2 linked regions of the Homo sapiens genome follow. The protein of the gene in region 2 interacts with the protein of the main gene of each other region in a biochemical or structural test. Each region holds a gene or a part of one and is shown on either strand. Other genes may lie near its edges.

What was found.
Region 1: the proteins of ASPSCR1 (region 2) and VCPKMT form a complex in vitro, tested with the Homo sapiens proteins (one study listed by BioGRID).

Annotation. Positions count from the first base shown.
Region 1 is NC_000014.9:50,113,573-50,120,754, forward strand, and holds the start of VCPKMT (protein N-lysine methyltransferase METTL21D), read right to left. Parts: upstream 3,001-7,182; 5' UTR 2,981-3,000; coding exon 2,715-2,980; exon of another isoform or gene 2,608-2,714; coding exon 2,497-2,607; intron 2,340-2,496; coding exon 2,267-2,339; intron 833-2,266; coding exon 713-832; intron 1-712. Other genes in the region: SOS2 (son of sevenless homolog 2), read right to left, coding at 4,772-5,281, 6,703-6,812. UniProt on the Homo sapiens protein: Protein N-lysine methyltransferase that specifically trimethylates 'Lys-315' of VCP/p97; this modification may decrease VCP ATPase activity.
Region 2 is NC_000017.11:81,980,542-81,987,879, reverse strand, and holds part of ASPSCR1 (tether containing UBX domain for GLUT4), read right to left. Parts: intron 4,327-7,338; coding exon 4,212-4,326; intron 2,374-4,211; coding exon 2,273-2,373; intron 1-2,272. UniProt on the Homo sapiens protein: Tethering protein that sequesters GLUT4-containing vesicles in the cytoplasm in the absence of insulin. Modulates the amount of GLUT4 that is available at the cell surface. Enhances VCP methylation catalyzed by VCPKMT.

The DNA.
Region 1 (7,182 bases), on a different chromosome or scaffold from region 2:
TAAGTCTTTTCTAACTATTTCAGACAAAAAGTTTAAAAAACAAAAAAAAAGACCCTAAAAATAGACAGGTATCTAGGTTGGAGGTTTCATAAATATGTAGAGAAAAACACAGAAGTAAAAACTTATCACTTGGCAACATGGGAAAACCCCATCTCTACAAAAAAATACAAAAAGTTAGCCGGGTGTGGTGGTACATGCCTATAGTCCCACTTACTTGGGGGCGGGGGGGGGGGGGGGTGACACTGAGGCAGGAGGATCACTTGAGCCCAGGAGGTTGAGGATGCAGTGAGCCCTGACTGTGCCACTGCACTCCGGCATGGGCTACAGGGTGAAACCCTGTCTCAAAACAAAAACAACTTATCACCTGCACATTTCTATCACGTATTCTCCAAAGGTAATACATACATCATTGAGATGTTCCCCAAAGGCAGCATCATGTTTAATAAACACTGAAAACTGTTCTTAAAAAGGAGTGGCACCCGTATTAACATTCTTCTGTAGCCATAGATCAACTAATTAGAAATGAAATAAAGTATCAGAAAAGATGAAAAAGGGGAGCTTCGTAGAATCATGGGCTGTGAAGATCCTTTCCTCAGCTTCACACAAACAGCATGTTTTCCCCACCCAAAATTACCATAATATACTTGAAGAGTCACATACAGCCCCCCTGAAGGGAAATCACTACAAAGATAATAGAGTACTTAATACTTACCTCAAAATATTTTTTCTCAATTTCTGGATTTTTCCCCATTGTTCGTTGTTCATAACAACATATAATACAAGTTTCAAATCCGCTGATATCTTTTAGAGTTTTCAGCAATGGCTCCAAAGACTATTTAAAAAAGAATATATTTTTTGTTTTTGATTTAAAAATTTTTCTACTCTAAAAGTAGGTTGAGGAGGTACAGGGGTATTTATAGCTCCCCTACAATTTATCCATCTTTGAATCAATCCAACAAAGCACATGTAATTAAAGCTCTAGGCTAGGTGCAGTGGCTCACACCTGTAATATCAACACTTTGGAAGGCAGAGGTGGAAAGATCGCTTGAAAGCAGGAGTTGAAGACCAGCCTGGAGAATACAGCGAGAGACAAACCACCCCCCGCAACACCTTACAAAAAATTTAAAAATTAGCCAGCATGCTGGTGCACACCTATAGTCCCAGCTATTGAGGAGGCTGAATGGGAGGATTACTTGAGCCTCAGGAGCTCGAGGTTACAGTGAGCTATGATCACTCCACTGCACTACAACATGTGTGACAGAGCAAGACCCCTATCTTAAAACAAAAACAAACAAACAAAAACCCCTCTGTAACTAATGATTGGGTAAGCTCCTGTTAACTAAACCATGTACTGATTTTGGTTTCCAGAAAAAGGATTCAGATGACTGCATTTTGGAGTTCTCATGGGAAACAAATGGAATCAACCTTACTCTTAAAAGTTTAATTTTATTTAATCTAATTTGGGATTTAAATAATCAACGATTTCCCTACAAAAGTTAAATCTGACCCTAACTTGGTTCAATGCTAATTATTTTTAAAATAATCGATGCCCACAACACTATACAAACTGATGTTTTTTTTTTTTTTTTTTTTTTTTGAGACAGAGTTTTGCTCTTGTTGCCCAGGCTGGAATGCAATGGCATGATTTCGGCTCACTGCAACCTCCGCCTCCCAGGTTCAAGCGATTCTCCTGCCTCAGACTCCCAAATAGCTAGGATTACAGACATGCACCACCACGCCTGGCTAATTTTGTATTTTTAGTAGAGACAGGGTTTTGCCATGTAGGTCAGGCTGGTCTCGAACTCCCGACCTCAGGTGAGCCACCTGCCTTGACCTCCCAAGTGTTGGGATTACAGGCGTGAGCCACCGCGCCCGGCCCAAACTGGTATTTAAAGAAAAGAACAATGAATTATTTATAACTTAATTCTCAATGTCATGGTTAACATGTTCCGTGGGAACAACCAAGGGAAAAAGAGAGGATTTTGGCTTTTCATAACATCCAATTGGCAAAATCCTTTAAAATTTTTACAGAAGCCTCTAGTAAAATGCATATAACACTTTTCTCAACATGCTTCACCAGGTCGGTATGATAATGATGAGCGTATATACATATGGTCCCTGGTGACTTTTATCTTCTCTTTACTGCATCAACTATAAGGCAAATCCCGGATTCAAAGATGTTAAAATGTGAAGAAACGTGTGCTTTAGAATTCATGGAATAAGGTTCATCTTCTAAGTGAAGAGACTTCGCTCACTGGATACTTACCTCTTCATAGTATATGCAGTCGGCCATCAGTATGAAGTCGGGTGGAGAAGGAAAGCCTTCTATTTCTTCCCCCCTTAAAAATGCCAAACAAATATTTCAATTGTTTTAATAATTCAAAATACTCTTGTTTTATAAAGAACCGGAAAGTCCCCTTCCATCCTTTTAATGAAACGCAATTCAAAACAAACTACAAATCAATATCTTAAAACAAGCTGAAAGGCCATACAAACCATTTCAGTACCTTGGCTTGAACAGAACCAGTGACAAGATGCTTGTTCATATTAATATTCATCTTCAGCAAGTCTTGCAATTCCTCAAGATCGGTGACTACAACATCAGCCCTATAAAATAACGTCGACTGAGGTGTAGGCACAGGGGGGAAAGCCTGTAATCCGGATTTCCCCAGCAAGAAGGCGCCCCCACATCCCGCCCGCCCGCCAGCTCTTACCCGAGGGTAGCAGCCATGAGCCCCACGGCCCCGGTGCCCGAACCCAGCTCCAGCACCGACCGCCGGCTCAGCGCGTGGGCCCCGTCGCCAGAAAACTCGGGCGTTTCCAGGTATTTAGAAAGGACAATGGCAGCGTCCCACACAACGCAACCCACGCCACCGGAGCTATACTGCTGTAGTCGTAGCACTGTACCATCCCGCTTCTCCAAAACTCGCACAAAGCTCCGCAGTGGGTCCTCCAGCGAGGACTCCAGCGTATCCGCCATTGCGCCCGGCAACAGAAAGCGGCGCGCGCAGGGACGTCACATCAACGCGCACCGCCCCGCCCTGCGGCTCCGCCCCCTGCCCGCCGCTGAGTTGGCGACGCAGCGCGCGCGAGTTAACAAAGCCCGGAAGGCAGCGTTACCTGGGCGGGGCCGAGCGTGGGGCCCCTGCTTACCCGACGCGCTTGGCAGCCTCCCTCTACCCTAAATCACACGTTTGGCTTAACGAAGAGGCCGTTTAAATCACTTTCCCAGACAAAACTATTATAATCTGCTCTTTAAAAAACAAAGCCAACCTCAGAGTTTACCAAGTTGGACACTTGATTTACATAGTAGTTACAAGGCTTAAATGCAATCAGCTTCCAAGATCCTACCAAAGATGGCTATAATCTTACAATCTTCCTTTTCAAGTTCCTAGTATGCTCCTAGTTTTTTGTATGAATTCATAAAAGTGGTTGCTAGAAGCCTGCAGCTCACATTTAACAGTGAAGAAAAAATTGTGTGTGTGTGTGTGTGTGTCTATAGGACTCAACAATCTCCCCCTTTGTTCCTTATAATGAAAACACATATTTTAAAAGTCTTTTAAAAATTAAGACTGGGGTGATTTATTAATCTTGTTAAGAACTCTGATACAAAGCACAGTAAAAGGCCACAAACCAGTAAATAAACAACGTGGCTTTTGGCTACTTTACAACTGCTGCTACAGCACTATCAGCAAAACACTCTATCACTTTGAACGAAGGCATCCAAATGGCAAATAAAAGCTTTACTCACTTATCTGATTAAAATGTTTAATAAAGCTTTAAGTATTTGCTGGTTTAAATATTACCAATCTAAAAAATATATTTAAAAAAAATTTCAGTTAACACGAGATTTATAGAGAAAGTTACTAGGTCTTGAAGGCAAGGCAGTTGGTTCCTATGCCATAGAATTTTTTTTGAATTTATGAATTAGTAAAGTAGCAGATTGTATTATAGGCCTCAAGTCACTTAAATTTATATAGGTTATTAGCAGTATCTTTAAATATACAATATAAACAAAACTGTACATACATGGCATATTAACTGTTTTCCATAACAATAGGCAATTCATTAGCTAAAGACGTCATAGTCTGCAAAAACAAAAGGCACATCTGAATGAGATACATGCCCTTTTTCCCTCCATCATTGGGTTATGTAGTCTTTGTTTACATTTTGACAAAATAATAAACACTTACAGTGCCATTCTATTATTTTCATCCTACTTTTCATTTTTGTCTTCAGCAGCAAATACCGGCATTTAAGACATGGCATTAAAGAGTTTAAGAACAGTTGGTGTTATTCACAATTCTCCTAGATGTAAAAACTAGAAGTAAAAACTAGAAGATGGTCAAAGAGGTTTAAAAATCAGTAACACCATATACCCCTCCCATATTTGTGTAAATTCACTGCCTTAAAAAGGCATCTATTACTCAAATTTGAAAAATTTCACAAAAGCACTATCCCTTTTCAGTGCAATCATGTCACTTTAAACCATATTTTTGCAGAGTTTACAGTGCAAATATAAATTCTTTATACTGGCCTTTTGGCAGCACTGAGGATCCAAGACAAGGCAATGCTACTGATCACCTGAGGATAATGGTGAAGGACTTTTGTATTTTTATTTTTCCAATTCTTAAAAGCTTATTTGATCAGTAGCATTTTTGTAAGAGCATTATTTGTAAAAAGTACTAAAATACTATGTCTTTTTTTGAATAAATTAAAAAAAAAACTTTACAAATACCATTCCAGTGTCAATGACTACATATGGCTAAGGTCATTGGGGAGTTTCTGCATTTTCTAGCAAAGGCAGTCTGTACAATGGGGGGTGCGAAAGCTCCCGTTTGTAAGTCTTTGGTGGCAGTTTTGGCAGATGAGGGCTTGAATTCTGCCTTGGTGGAACAGGGGGAGCTGGAGGATGAGCAAGATTATTCTGACTAGAACTGAGCACATAGCATCGACGCGGTACCCTTGGAGAGGGTGTGCTAGGAGGAGTGCTTGGCGAATTTGGACACGTACTAATGTCTCTGAGCCAGTCTGAATCTCTGTGAAGATGCCCCAGTGGAGGTGGCTGAAGATTAAATGGACAGTTTATAAAGTGTTCTGGAGGCCGAAGGGGAACTGGTGGAGGGGTATCAGGAAGAGGATCTCTTGGTGGTGGCGGAGGTGGACTATGCAGAGGCCCATCAAATGCACCAGTAGGAACAGGAACTCTGGGTTTTACCTTTGGAGGAGGAGGCTGTCTCGGTGGAATAGCAGGAGGATCATCATCAGATTTCATATTTCCCTCAAAAAAAAAAGTAATTAAATTATACCTCTATTCTGAAAAATTAAAAAAAAAAATTTTTAAGTCTGAAAAATTCTTACTTGTCAAGTTAAATTCAGAGGCTCAAAATAAACTAATCTGGGTTAATTATCAGATTATGAGTACTCCTAGATTAATTCAGGGCTGGGTTTAATATTTTTATATATGAGATGTTTTAATTTAAGTCTTAGGTCCTAACTCTTTATCTTGCTTTGTGTATACATTTCAGAAATTTATGTATTTTAATTATAATAGTAGGTAAGTGACAATAATTTATTGCTTTATAGACATGAAAGGACATGATGTCTAGAGGACTTTAATGTCTAGCTTCTGCTTACTGGGCATCTACTGCTACTTTCTCCAGTGAGGCTTAGAGCAGTAGATCTCAAAGTGTGATCCAGAGACCAACAACATCAGCATCAGTAGGGAACTTGTTAGAAAAGCAAATTCTTGGGCCCCATCCTAGACTACTGAATCAGAAACTCTGGAGGTGTGGCTCCACAGTCTGATTTTACCAAGCCTTTCAGGTAATTCTGATGCACCCTTAAAATTTTGAGAAGCATTAGTTGAAAGTTTGAAGAATACTTGGAATACTACTGAAGTTTTTTTCCACCTGTACCAGAAAGAAAATGTACTTCCAGCCTCTTTTTTATTTTTTTATTTTTATTTTTAGTTTTTGAGACAGAGTCTTGCTCTGTCGCCCAGGCTGGAGTGCAATGGTGCGATCTTGGCTCACTGCAACCTACCTTCACCTCCCAGGTTCAAGTGATTCTCCTGCCTTAGCCTCTTGAGTAGCTGGGATTACAGGTGCCCGCCACCATGCCCGGCTAATTTTTGTATTTTTAGTAGAGACAGGGTTTCACCATATTGGCCAGGCTGGTCTTGAACTCCTGACTTCAGATGATCTGCCTGCCTCAGCCTCCCAACCAGCCTTTTTTTTTTTTTTTTTTTTTTTTGAGACAAGAGTTTTGCAATTGTTGCCCAGACTGGAGTGCAGTGGCACGATCCTGGCTCACTGCAACCTCCAACTCCCAGGTTCAAGCGCTTCTCCTGCCTCAGCCTCCCCAGTAGCTGGAATCACAGGCACCCGCCACCACACCCAGCTAATTTTTTGTATTTTTAGTAGAGATGGGGTTTCATCATGTTGACCAGGCTGGTCTCGAACTCCTGATCTCAGGTGATCTACCCGCCTGGCATGAGCCACTGCGCCCGGCCCAGCCTCTTATTTAGAAAAGGTTTTTATAAGGATTAAACAACTAAAAGTATTTTTCAAATATAACAACCCAAATGCTGAAAAACCATAAATGGTAGCCAAAGTATAATTCACAGACTCTTTATAACACTAGGCATTATTTTGAAGATTCACAACTTTGAATAAGTTGGAGTAAAGTCCTGTTGATTACCTTGGAATTTGAAGCATCATGATCAAACTTTTTTCGAGGAGGAAGAGGAGGAGGAATCAGGGGCTCTTCACTTAGTTTATGTAAACTACCACATGAACTAAAGAAAGACTCTGGGGGAGAAAAAGACTAGTTTAACCACAATTCACAGTATAAGATAAACCTTTATCACAATTTGTGATCGATACTTCTACCATGGCATTTGTCAGACTGTATCAACTATTGGTTTATCTATCTTCCCCCATTAAATTGTAAGCTTTCTGCAGGGAGTGTGTATTTATTTCTGTGTCTCTAGCACCAACCATAGTGCCTGGGGCATGATGGGTACTTCAGCTAAATGAAGGTGTACTATTTAATTATGATTAATGAGATTCTGCTCCCTGAAAAGCCTTTCACAAATCAAAACAAAACATGTCTAAATACACTGTAGTAACTTCCAAAGAAAGACCATCCTAATCAGAGACCTTTTTTTTTTTTTTTTTT
Region 2 (7,338 bases):
CCTTGTTGTTTCTTTTGTTTTTTTGTTTTTTTGAGATGGAGTTTTGCTCTTGTCACCCAGGCTAGAGTGCAATGGTGCGATCTCGGCTCACTGCAACCTCCTCCAAAGCGCCCAAACCCACCCCCACAGCCACCACCAAAGCCAGCTCCAAAGCCACTTCCAGAACCACCACGCCTGGCCAAGCCTGTTGTTTCTTAAACTAAGTTTCACACGAGGTTTACAAAGTCTGTTGAAGAGGCTTATGCTACCACAATGCCGGCCCCACCTCTCCAGACACCCTCGGCCCCTCCCCAGTGGCAGCCCCAGGCCACTCTGGGCCATTTCCTTACCTCCATCCCCATCTGAGGACTGACAGCACAGCCAGGGAGGACGGCCCTCACCAAGCACCTGTGCCTGTGGGAGCACTGGATTCTGTTCACGCCCGGGGGCACCGCCCGGCCCAGGGGCATTTCCTTCCAGACGTTCATCTTTCCTGACTTCTGTTCCCCGCGCTGTTTGGTTTTCTTCTTGCCCTCTGCCACTCTCGTCTCAGGAAGCAGCACAGAGCCAGGGCGCCGGGATCCCTGCTTCTCACCCAGTGCCCACACAGCGCCTGGGGCTGCCTGCCTCCCTGCCCGGCGCCACTCCTGGCTCGGGTCCCGCTCACCCCTGCCCGTGGCTTCGCTTTGCTCTCAGGCTCCGTCATCTCCTGCCTCGGGTCCCGCTCACCCCTGCCCGTGGCTTCGCTTTGCTCTTAGGCTCTGTCACCTCCTGCCTCGGGTCCCGCTCACCCCTGCCCGTGGCTTCGCTTTGCTCTTAGGCTCCGTCATCTCCTGCCTCGGGTCCCGCTCACCCCTGCCCGTGGCTTTGGCTTTGCTCTTAGGCTCCGTCACTGTTGTCTGAGTTCCGTTTTGGGAGGGAGAATTCCGTGCTCGTGCTTAACCCGCTGCCATCTCCAGGGGCCTCCATTCACCCCGACAGCCACTGGGGTGGCTTCCATCCCCATGACCACTGAGACCCGACGTGCAGACCTCAGCGCTCTCACCCACGAACGCAACACCCGTGCCATGCAGCGCGGCACTACTGTCAGACGGGAGCAGGCCCAGCCCTGGGGCCACCAAGCGCGCCCAACGCACAGTCACCTTCCCAGCGCCCGACGCGCGGTCACCTTCCCACAGGCCCTATGCTCGGTCCTCAAGACATGAACTCACCCCATCCACACACCAGCCGGGGCACAGGTGAGGAAACTGAGGCCCGGGGAGGGCGAGAACCCCCTGGCTCACAGCAAACCCCAGCCCCAAGTCCCTTCCATTCTGCTGAGCCTTTTACTGTGGACAGAGACTTCCAGCCAACGATGAAAAGACCCAAATTGACAAAGCACCAATTTTTACACATTCAGGAACAACGTTTAAACCATTAACCGACAGAAACTGATACACATCAATTACTTATTTTTATTTATTTATTTTTTTGAGACAGAGTCTCGTTCTGTTGCCCAGGCTGGAGTGCAGCAGTGCGATCTCGGCTCACTGCAACTGCCTCCACGGCTCAAGTGATCCTCCCACCTCAGCCTCTGGCATAGCTGGGACCACAGGCACGCACCACCATGCACTATGCCTGGCCTAACATTTCTATTTTTTGTAGAGAAGGGGTTTCACTATGTTGCCGAGGCTAGTCTTGAACTCATGAGCTCAAGCGATTCGCCAGCCTCGGCCTTCCAAAGTGCAAGCCACTTTGCCCAGCCACTGTGCCCAGCCACTGTGCCCAGCCATCCAATTACTATTAGGAAGATTTTCTGGTGGGGCACAGGAGCTCACACCTGTAATCTCAACGCTTTGGGAGGCTGAGATGGGAGAATTTCTTGAGCCCATGGGTTCAAGAGCAGCCTAGGTGACCAACATAGTGAGACCCTGCCTCTTAAAAAAAAGAGACCTTATGATCCCATCCAGGGGAATCAAGCATGGGGAGCCCTGCCCCCAGCACCGAACGTCTCCCCTTAGTGCTCACCAGGCCCCCACAAGGACAGAAGCACATTCCTGCTCTTCTAGGTGGGCAAGGCTGGGCCGCTGGGCCCAGGAAACTCAGAACGATGAGCTGTGACCAGCCATCCCCGAGGCTGCTGCTCATGAACCGGCAGCCCACACACCCCTCCTCTACAAAGGACTGCAAAGTGCCAAGAGGCACCACAGGCCAGCACAGAGCTTGGGTGTCCAGCTCTGAACCAGACCCAGTAACCACAGCAGCTTCCCCAGCAAACAGGGTAGGGAAGAGCCCCCAGCCCACTGATGCTCACCTGATCTGTGGAAAATGGCTGAGAAGCTCCCAGAGGGTCTGGCCTGAACAGAAAGAGTCCTGCAACCTCGAGCCATCGTCCAGCTGCAAAGCGATGCGAACCTGGAGGGTATAAGACATGAGAAACTTCCTTAGGAAGAAAAGCAACTATTCCTTCTAAATCCCAGACTGATTCTCCAGACACAGAGAGGGTGACTGCCCCGCCCTGGCCTCCAGGGAGAGGCTGACCCCCACGGAGAAGGCTACCCTCCTATTCACTCTGGAGTGAGGGCCTTGGAGGCTCCCCGGCAGGGCTGCACCAGCATGCGTGTGTGCATGTGAGTGTGCAGGTATGTGCAGGTGTGCGTGCGTGTGTGCATATGTGTGTGTGGGTGTGTGCGGGGGTGTGCAGTTGTGTGCAGGTATGTGTGTGGATGTGTGCATGTTGGTGTGTGGGTGTGTGCAGGTGTGCGCATGTGCGTGCAGATGTGCGTGTGTGTGCATGTTTACATGCAGGTGTGTGCGGGTATGTGCGCAGATGTGTAGGTGTGTGTGTACAGGTGTGTGCGTGGGTGTGTGTGGGGGGGAGGTGTGTGCATGTTGGTGTGGGCGGTGTGTGCAGGTGTGTGGGGGGGTGTGCACGCAGGTGTGTGGGTGTGTGCAGGTGTGTGGGGTGTGTGCGGGTGTGTGCGGGTGTGGGGGTGTGTGCACGTTGCTGTAGGGGTGTGTGTGGGTGTGTGTGGGGGGTGTGTGTGCGGGGGTGTGCAGGTGTGTGTGGGGTGTGTGCAGGGGTGTGTGGGGGTGTGTACGGGTGTGCGGGTATGTGGGTGTGTGGGGGTGTGTGTGGGTGTGTGTGGGTACATGCAGGCGCCACAGGAGTGAACTGTGTTGGAGACAGTCCTCGTGTCCCAGTGGGGGCTTCAAAAGATTGCAGCTCCACCGAACCTGACTGCAGCCTCAGGACAGACACTGAGCTAAGCTGCTCCCAGATTCCTGACCCTCAGAAGCCACATGAGATGGTAAATGTTTGCTGCTCTTTTTTTTTTTTTTGAGACAAAGTCTCACTCTGTCGCCCAGGCTGGAGTGCAGTGGCAGCACAATCTCGGCTCACTGCAAGCTCCGCCTCCCGGGTTCACGCCATTCTCCTGCCTCAGCCTGCTGAGTAGCTGGGACTACAGGCATCCGCCACCACCCACGGCTAATTTTTGTATTTTTAGTAGAGACGGGGTTTCATTATGTTGGCCGGCTGGTCCCAAACTCCTGACCTCAGGTGATCTGCCCGCCTCGGCCTCCTAAAGTGCTGGGATTACAGGCTGCCCTTGCGGCATCCATGCAGCGCTTTCGGCTCTAACATTCTGGGCAATTCTATGAGCAGGTGGTCAGGCTGGTGGGTGAATGCTGCTGACACCCTGAGCCAGGGAAGGCACAACTGACCCCAGAAAGAAAGAAAAACTTCCACATGAAGAATGACGTGGGCGGGGCGCAGAGGCTCACGCCTGCAATCCTTTGGGAGGACTTTGGGAGGCCGAGGCGGGTAGATCATGAGGTCAGCAGTTCCAGACCAGCAGGCCAACATGGTGAAACCCTGCCTCTACTAAAATACAAAAATTAGCCGGGTGTGGTGGCGGGCACCTGTAGTCCTAGCTACTCGGGAGGCTGAGGCAGAATGGTGTGAACCCGGGAGGCGGAGCTTGAAGTGAGCCGAGACTGCGCCACTGAGCTCCAGCCTGGGCGACAGAGCGAGACTCCAGCTCAAAAAAAAAAAAACATGAGATGCTCATTTTCAGTTGCCAGTTATCAAAAAACAGGAAGCTGTTTGGGCCCAACCCAGGGAAGGCAGAACTGGTGCTAAGACTCATGTCCCTCCTTCCCCAGCACCCCCCACTGTCCCGTCCCCCGTCCCTGGCCAGCTGAACGATCCTGTGCCCCACACAGTCAGCCTCCCCCAGAGCACGACCCACCATGTTCTCAGGCCCCTCACGGCTCCGGGAAGCGGGCACCATCTCCAGCTTGGCATTGTTGGGCAGGTTGGCAAATCTCCACTGGAGAGAAAGGTCGAGCACGCTCCTCTGAAACCTGCAAGACAGACCAGAGCACACTTGCTGCCCTGCAGAGCCTGACACGCCCTGCCATCCACGCCCCGCCATCCCCGTCCCACCATCCACGCCCCGCCATCCACGCCCCGCCATCCACGTCCTGTGGCAGCTCCCCAACAGCGGGACGTCATGACCTGCAGAGGCACAAGGCGGGTCCCCGATCATATGGGGCCTCCTGCAAGCAGAAGGGAGCAGGAAAAAGGGAGATGTGGGCCTCGGTGCACGCCGAGGGGGCTGCTCCTTCAGAGTCTGGGGTGCTGACAGCCCCAGTGCAGACGCTCGGAAAACACAGAGAGAACGACTGGGGCGTGAACACTGCTGCACTCGCGGAAGCTGGAGTGTCACAGACCCCGGCCGTCACGGCTGGAGCCACCACAGAAAACCTGACTGCCCGGGCGCAGTGGCTCACGCCTGTAATCCCAGCACTTTCGGAGGCCGAGGCAGGCGGATCACCTGAGGTTCAGGAGTTTGAGACAAGCCTGACCAACATGGTGAAACCCCGTCTCTACTGAAAATACAAAAATATCCCATCTCTACTAAAAATACAAAAAAATAAGCTGGGCATGGTGGCTCAGGCCTGTAGTCCCAGCTACTCGGGAGGCTGAGGCAGGAGAATCGCTTGAACCCGGGAGGCAGAGGCTGCAGTGAGGCAAGATCATGCCACTGCACTCCTGCCTGGGCAACAAGAGCAAAACTCTGTGAAAGAAAAAAGGAAAGGAAAGGAAAGAAAAGAAAAGAAAAGAGAAAGGAAGAAAAAGAAAAAGAGAAGAAGAAAGAAAGAAAGAAAGAGAAAACAAGAAAGAAAAAGAAAGAAAAGAAAAGAAAAATCTGAATATACTCAAAGTGGTTGGCCTCACTTTGGAAATGCAAGCTGCTGTCGGAGACAACTAGTGAAGAGAGTTCAGACAGCCCAGGGGCATCTGGAAGAATTAAGAGAGAACAAACTTTGCTATATCAACACTGGCCAGAAAAGTGAGTCTGGAAATTGCCACATGAAATGTCTACGTCAAGACAGGATAGCAGATCGGGGGATCCCGAGGGCAGGCAGGCTGGGAACCTTGGAGCGGAGGGCACTGTTCACGCCTGGGGCTGCATTCCTCTGCACCGGCTGCACTTTGTAAGCAAGTGGTACCATTAGCAGAGGAAAAGGGCACCTGAAAACATGGCTATGGTATTGCAGGACCTGCCTCAAAATCGCACTCACTGGTTCCCACCAGACACCACCACACAGACCACGGGCAGGTGAACACTGAGAAGTAACAATGCGCTGGGCGCGGTGGCTCATGCCTGTAATCCCAGCAATTTGGGAGGCCCAGACGGGCAGATCACTTGAGGTCAGGAGTTTGAGAGCAGTCTGGCCAATGTGGTGAAACTCCGTCTCTACTAAAAATACAAAAATTAGCCAGGCATGGTGGCACAGGCCTGTAGTCCCAGCTACTCGGGAGGCTGAAGTGGGAGGAGTGCTTCAACCCGGGAGGCGGAGGTTGCAGTGTGCCAAGATCGCGCCATTGCACTCCAGCCTGGGCGACAGAGCGAGACTCCGTCTCAAAAAAAAGAAAGAAAAATGAGGCCAGGTGCAGTGGCTCACGCCTATCATCCCAGCACTTTGGGAGGCCAAGACGGGCGGATCACTTGAGGTCAGGAGTTTGAGACCAGCCTGGTCCACATGGTGAAACCCCGTCACTACTAAAAATACAAAAATTAGCCAGGCGTGGCACGTGCCTGTAATTCCAGCTACTCAAGACGCTGAGGCACAATAATCGCTTGAACCCGGGAGGCAGAGGTTGCGGTGAGCTGAGATCATGCCACTGCCCTCCAGCCTAGGTGACAGAGCAAGACTCTGTTTCAGAAAAATGGCCAGGCACAGTGACTCATGCCTGTAATCCCAACACTTTGGAAGACCAAGGCGGGCAGATCACCTGAGGTCAGGACTTGAAGACCAGCATGACCAACATGGTGAAACCCCGTCCCTACTAAAAATACAAAAATTAGCTGGGCATGATGGCGCACGCCTGTAATCCCAGCTACTCGGGAGGCTGAGGCAGAAGAATCACTTGAACCTGGGAGACAGAGGTTGCAGTGAGCCGAGATAGCGCCACTGTACTACAGCCTGTGTGACAGAGCGAGACTCCACCTCAAAAAATAATAAAATAAAAAAGAAATAAAAATGAAACCCTAAGCCCCCCCCAACCAACTGAACCAGCCTCCTCTTGGCCCAGGGGACCCCAGAAACCTTGAAAGCTGAGTTCCTGGCCATGGCTGGGTGGGAGATCAGACACATCTGCAGGCTCTCTTCCCTAAGGGATAAACAGAAAGCAGCCCTTTCCAAAGACCCCTGGGCTGGTATCTGACATCAGCCAACCTCCCGCCAGGCCCTTCTCTCTTGCGGTTTCTTCAAAACAACCCACAGGTATTTCCTGATAAGAAACCACCAACCATGGAGTGGTTCTGGCACAGTCAGGGTTTTCGTGGCACAGTCTTCATGTCCTCTGATTTGCCATTTATTTATTTATTTACTTATTTACTTTTTTTGTAGAGACAGGGTCTCACTATGTTCCCCAGGCTGATCTCGAATTCCTGGGCTCAGGCAATCCTCCGCCTCGGGCACCCAAAGTGCTAGGATTACAGGCATGAGCCACTTCACCCAGCCTGCTTCACCTCTGACTTCAGAGGCCAAAAATTCCACCCTCAGGTCATGCTGGCACTGCCATTTTTTGCACATAGGACCCGTGAAGAGGCAGGAAGCTCAACTGTGTGCACAGTTCTCCTTTCATGAATACTCATGATCCTCCTACAGCGTATTAAGTACGTCTGTATCAGCCACCCCATTCGGTGTAAATCCCTGTCTTATTCTTCCCTCTCTTGAAGTGTCTGTTTCCAGCTTCTGGCTGGAGGCTACACTTCCCAGCCTGTTAGAATGGCCACCCTGCAAGCTGCAACCGGTTATGAGAAATAAAGCCCTCCTTTCCAAACATATGAACCGCATTCTTCA